Linked DNA regions of Homo sapiens: region 2 is linked to region 1. The links come from fine-mapping of genetic effects on gene expression. Tissue or cell type: lung. Region 1 holds a variant in brackets; the other region holds the start of a gene. All regions are shown on one strand. Distances are from middle to middle.

Region 1 (2,844 bases):
AACCACAAGTGTCTGGAAAACAATGTGCAAAGTTCACCTTCTTTCAAACTCCCATTTGAACCTTCCATCCACAGTGCTGATCACAAAGTCCTGTTGCACTAGTCTTCTTGTCATTTAAATATTCATTTAACATTTATTGAAGACAAATTCTTGGCCAGGCCCTCTGCCAGGGGTTGTGAATATGGTCTCTGCCTGTAAGCAGCAATTTGTCTCATGGGGCTTAGTGTTCTTCAGTCCACTCTGTTCAACTACCCTGCCCTCCCCAGAAGCTCTGAGGACCCCCTGATACCTACCCCCAGCTTAACAGCCCTCTTGTGTTGCAGATCTCCTACCTAGACCCCTCAAGAGGACTCGGGCTACCATCAGGCCCAGTCAGCCAACAAATCTGAGCTCCACCCATACTGATCCCCACACAGGTTGCTCCAGAACCTCCTGGATTCCAGAGCAATAGCTTAAAGTCATAGTGTCAGTCTGAGGTGTGTTCCAAGAAATTTGTTACTAATAGGAAAGTACCAAAGGGATTTTTCTATAAGTTGGGGCAGACTAAAAGTTTTCCTGTGTAATAGGCATTGTGTCCAGCTCCATTTCCCCTTTCCTCTGGTTTCCTTCAGAGAACGACCCCTCCTTCTGCACTTAGACCATACAGCTCAGGTGGGGATAACCTTGCTCTTAGTTCCAGAAATGGGCGTGTGACTGAGGCCTGGCCAATCAGAGCCCCACATTCTCATGGCCGTAAAAACCAGCCCACAGATGGGCACAGGGACCAAGCAAGGAGGATGAGACCACTTTAGCTGGAGGGCAGGTAGGCTGGAAGTCTGCATCTGCTACAGGGAAGAGCTTGCCCACGAATGAAATCCATGTAGTTCAGCAGAGCTGAGTGACAGAGAAACATCAACTGTGCTTCTTGATCTAGCCAGGATGACTCCTGGAACTTTTATTAATTTTCTACATTGAACACAGCTGAGCATTACTCACATCTGACATCTGTTCAAACAATAACATTTCTCCCCTCCTGGCAGCAGGCTAAAAGCAATATGGGTAATAGCTAAGTATTATTTGAGACAGGGTCTTGTTATGTTGCTCAGGCTGATCTCGAACTCCTGGGCTCAAGTAATCCTCCCGCCTCAGTCTCCTTAGTGGTTGAGTTTACAGGTGTGTGTCACCGCACCCACTTTAGCTGATTAAATAAAAGGGTGTGTGAAACCACTTTCTGCCTCTTAGTGTGAAGAGGGATAGTACTCTAGTTTGGGCAAATCTTCAAAAATCACTATTTGAAATTTGAAAATCGTCCATTTGCAGCTAATGATTAAGTTTAACTTGGGATACTCAAGTTACTTTTCATTTTGGGCACATTTCATCTCAAAGATGTGGTCCC[A/G]TATTTTGTCCATTTTTCTTTGTGGGAGGCAATGGCAATTCATATCGGCCTCTCATAAAACAACCAAGACCGGGATCCAGGCATGATACTTGCTGAAGAGGCTTCCCTTAGGCTAATCTGACACCTCATTGCAGAAACCACCAGTCACCAGCTCCACTGACCACCTGCCATCCAGCTGGCTGGAGCCGAGTGCTCTGCAGACTCAGAAGTCCAAGGCGTGGCTCCCAGGGGCCCTCACACCATAACCCCTCAGTGGACAGCACCACTGCAGAGGAAACCTCAGTGTGGACCATGGCAGGGCCCTGCTTGAGCTGTCTCTGTTGTGGATTGAGTCCCAGCTCCAAAAGGACTCACACATTGCCTCCCCTCCCTCCATTTCCTGACACATAGGTGGCTATTCTGCAGTTAACCTTTTATTGTCCCTCCCCTTGTATCTTAGCAGCTAGGAAATGAAGTAGGTTGGTATGTTTTAGTTGTGTGTGCATATGAGAGTAACAGTGTCAGATATTAAGGTTCATGGGTTTTAGAAATGTGTATAATCAAGTCCTCACAGCCAAAAGTTTTAGTGTAAACTATCAGTTCCAGGAGAAAAAGGAGAAAGATAACTAAGAATGAAGAGAAGAAAGTGTCCAGGAATTCAGTGTGACTATCAGAAACCACTAAAAATGAATGCAGTGCTGGGGAGAACTGCAGACTGGCAGAGCGAGGCCAGATGGCCTGTCACCCCACGCCTTAGTGAACACCAGGAGCCAACAGACTGCCCAGAGCCAGGGCCTTGGTACCACACCCACACCACAGGCTCACACAGGTAGGAGGCAGGCAGGTTCAATCTTGCTGCCACATACTAATGACCACAGGCGGCCTGAGGTCTTTGAGGTTGTTTCTTCTAACATTCTGCAGGAGGGAGTTCATTTTTCAATACTGAATGGGCTGCTGTAAACAGGTTATCTCCTGGGACCACTACAGCTTAAGGACAAAGCGTGGGGATGGCACAAGTGAAGGGAGGGTGTCTCTCCTGCCTCCTCACCTAAGATGAAGCCTCCATCAGCTCACCCACACTTGTTTTTCTCTTCTCCATGAACTTGCAGGGGCATGTACCATTAGTAAGGAAAATAAAACCTTTTAAATATGTTTACTGAAAGCATCTTTCTTGCACAAGGCTTAAAGTACTGTGCATTTGTGAGCATATCGTGCTTGATAATGAACACGCACACACATTCAGCTCATTTACAGACAAACCATCCACAAGTTGGATTTTCTACATTTCAAAATGGAATGACCATAGCGGAGGATGTCAGGTTCTAAGCCCTGTCTTGATAAAGTTTGAGAGATTGTAACACGCTTTTACTTTCCTCTTTAGGTTTTAAGCATTATGTGCTGACTGAAGCTAGAAATAAAAACAGCTTTGCTTTCAGCCAATTTCTGCTTTACTGTGTCACTGAGACATGTTGTTTGAGACCCCTCATCAT
Region 2 (2,672 bases), 22 kb after region 1:
GATTCAAAAGGCCTGATGAGAGAAAAAAATAACCTAACTCAACTGGTCCCTATGTCCCTCAGTTCAACAAGTGTTTGTTAAAGGATCAGATAACCAACTGTTAGATTACAATGATAGAGAAGTCACAATCCCCACCCTCAAGGAGCTCATTCTACTGTGGAGAGGCATACAAATAATTATAATACTGTAAGAATATGCACATGAAAAAGCCCTACTGCTACCTAAGCCTCTGTCTGGGATGCCCACTGTCTGCTCTTTTCATCCTGTAGCTTTAAATATTGGCTTCTCAAAGAGGCTTCCTCTGATCATCTAACTCATTCACTCAAATATTTTTTGAGTGTTTCCAGCACTGTTCTAAACCCCAAAGACAAAAGAATGAACAAAACAAAATCCCTGCTCTTATGGCATTTACATTCTAGTGGGGAGAGATTCACATTAAACAAAGATGCATACATTTAATATGAAAAAATAACTCTCTATGAAGAAAAATGAGGCAGGGTAACCAGAGTAGCGGGAGTGCTATTTGGGCAGAAGTCCTCTCTGAGGAGGTCAGATTTCAGTAGAAAGTTTAAGTTGTGGCATGATCTCCAAAGATATTTGAGGAAGAAAAAGACCAGGTGAAAAAGCTTCTAGGACCATCTGTTATTCTGCATACCAGTTCCTTGTTTCCTTCACAGCACATCACAGTTCCTGGAAGTCTTACATATTTATATTTACTTTTATCTGTTCTCCTCGCAAATATAAGCTCCAAGTAATGGCAAGGATCTCTTATATGTCGATGTCAGTGTCCCTGGCCCTTAGAACAGTGCCTAACCATACAAAGCTGATGTTCACTCTATCTGCTGAATGAATAAATAATTGTTGCGCTCACTAATGATAACAACTCCTAACTTTATTACCTGGCTTTCTATTGGAATCCTGACAGCTCCATGAGGTAGCTAAGGATAATAATCTACAGATTTAAAAAAATGAAGCGAAGAGTGTGAGAATAGTCATCAGGTGGGCTTCTAACAGGAAAAGGTCTCAGGGCCTACGGCAAAATTCGGAGGGGGGGTTACGGAAAGGACAGGGTGGATTAGGCCATGGTGACTTGGAGAGAGGAGGCACGACTGGCCATTTTTCCTGAGTCTGGAAAAAGCAGCCTAGTACAAGAAGCTCCTTCGAGCGACCTCCTTAAAATACACTTACCTGGTCTACGTCGTCCGCCATGTTTCAAACCCTGCGCCCTTTCCCGCCTCTCGCGAGAACACAAGAGCAACGTCAATCTCCGGAAACGTGAGGATACAATACACCGGAAATAGAGAGAAACCTGTTGTGCTCTTTCCTGCTTCCCGCAGTTTTTTAGTGGCCACGGGTATGGGGTGGAGCTTCCTTTAGGGGCGTGACTAGGCCTCCAACGAAGGGGCGTGGCCAAGCGCACCGCCTCGGGGCGGGGCCGGCGTTCTAGCGCATCGCGGCCGGGTGCGTCACTCGCGAAGTGGAATTTGCCCAGACAAGCAACATGGCTCGGAAACGCGCGGCCGGCGGGGAGCCGCGGGGACGCGAACTGCGCAGCCAGAAATCCAAGGCCAAGAGCAAGGCCCGGCGTGAGGAGGAGGAGGAGGGTGAGAGCGAGGCCCAGCGGGCTTCGCGGGAGACGCCGCCGGTGGGCGGAGGAGGCCCAGAGGCAGGGCGGGAGTCCAGACGCGGAGGCCTGGTGGAGGTTGCTGCGCGCGTTCCGCGCCGTGGGGGCAGCCCGGCAGGCTGCGGCCGGCCCTCCCCGCTGTCCCCGCGTCTTTGTCCTGCGCACCCAGAGCGGTTTCCCGCGAGCTTCGCCCGATCCAAGCTCCTGCGTAGCTTTTTTCCCGCTCCCCGTTGTCCAGAGGATACAGATGTTCAGGGTTGAACTCGGAGAAGGCAGTTATTTGTGTCCCAGGAAGACAGACGGACGGACCAGGACGTAGAGTGATGCAGTGTGCTGACTCCCGAATGATAACTTCAGCTGAGTCTCACCCAGAGTTCCACAGTGGGATCCCACCTGACTTCCCCTCATGGATATTTGATAGGCTTCTTACATTTGTCATGGGCAATGCAGAACTCATGGTTTTCCTCTTTAAATCTATGCTTTCCTCCGTTTTTCCAGTCTCAATACTTGTTATAAAGCAAAGCCCACCTTTTTCTTATGTCCACACATCCAGTCCGTCAGCAAGTCCAGTCAGTTCAGCCTCAAGAGTGTATTTCAAATTTGTCCACTTCTCTTCATTTCCATGACCACAGCCCCTGTCCAAGTCATCATCACCTTTCAGTTGAGTGACTGCAGTTTCCTCTTTACTGGCCTCCCAGCTCTGCATCCAGCAACCCAAATAATCTTAAAAAAAAAAAAAATCATGCCCTGCTCCTGCTTTAAACTCCCCTTGGTTTTCCATTGCTCTTAGCTTAAAATCCAGTTGTTTTATCCTGGCCTACAAGATACTACATGTTTTGGCTCTTGCTACCTCTCCTGTTTCTCTTACCACTTGTTTCCTTGCCAGATACCCTCCTTATTGGCCTCCTTTCTCTTCCTCAAATATGCCAAGTTATTCCTTGAGTCTTTTCCTTTGATGTTCCTTCTGCCTAGAGTGAACCCCCCATGGCTTTTACCAGGGCTGATTTTTTCTATTTCTTCAAAACTCAAGTTAGACATTCCTTGAGCA

Evidence for each region. PIP is the estimated chance that this variant, and not a neighbour inherited with it, causes the effect.
Region 2: it holds the start of XPC, and the variant in region 1 is fine-mapped to the expression of XPC in lung (TOPMed, PIP 0.94). The same link has a PIP of 0.9 or more in sun-exposed skin and whole blood.

What each region holds. Positions count from the first base shown.
Region 1 is chr3:14,199,180-14,202,023 of GRCh38, reverse strand. It overlaps LSM3 (LSM3 homolog, U6 small nuclear RNA and mRNA degradation associated), which reads right to left. Exons shown (of 4, transcript NM_014463.3): 4 at 902-2,844. Among named protein-coding and RNA genes, the nearest start is that of LSM3, 22 kb to the right of the region's middle. The variant A/G (reference allele first, on the strand shown) is at 1,376.
Region 2 is chr3:14,177,398-14,180,069 of GRCh38, reverse strand. XPC (XPC complex subunit, DNA damage recognition and repair factor) reads left to right here and starts at 1,469. Exons shown (of 16, transcript NM_004628.5): 1 at 1,469-1,604. The coding sequence starts at 1,502. It overlaps LSM3 (LSM3 homolog, U6 small nuclear RNA and mRNA degradation associated), which reads right to left and starts at 1,253. Exons shown (of 4, transcript NM_014463.3): 1 at 1,189-1,253. The coding sequence starts at 1,209. RefSeq lists enhancers at 1,160-1,209, 1,310-1,659 and a silencer at 1,710-1,829.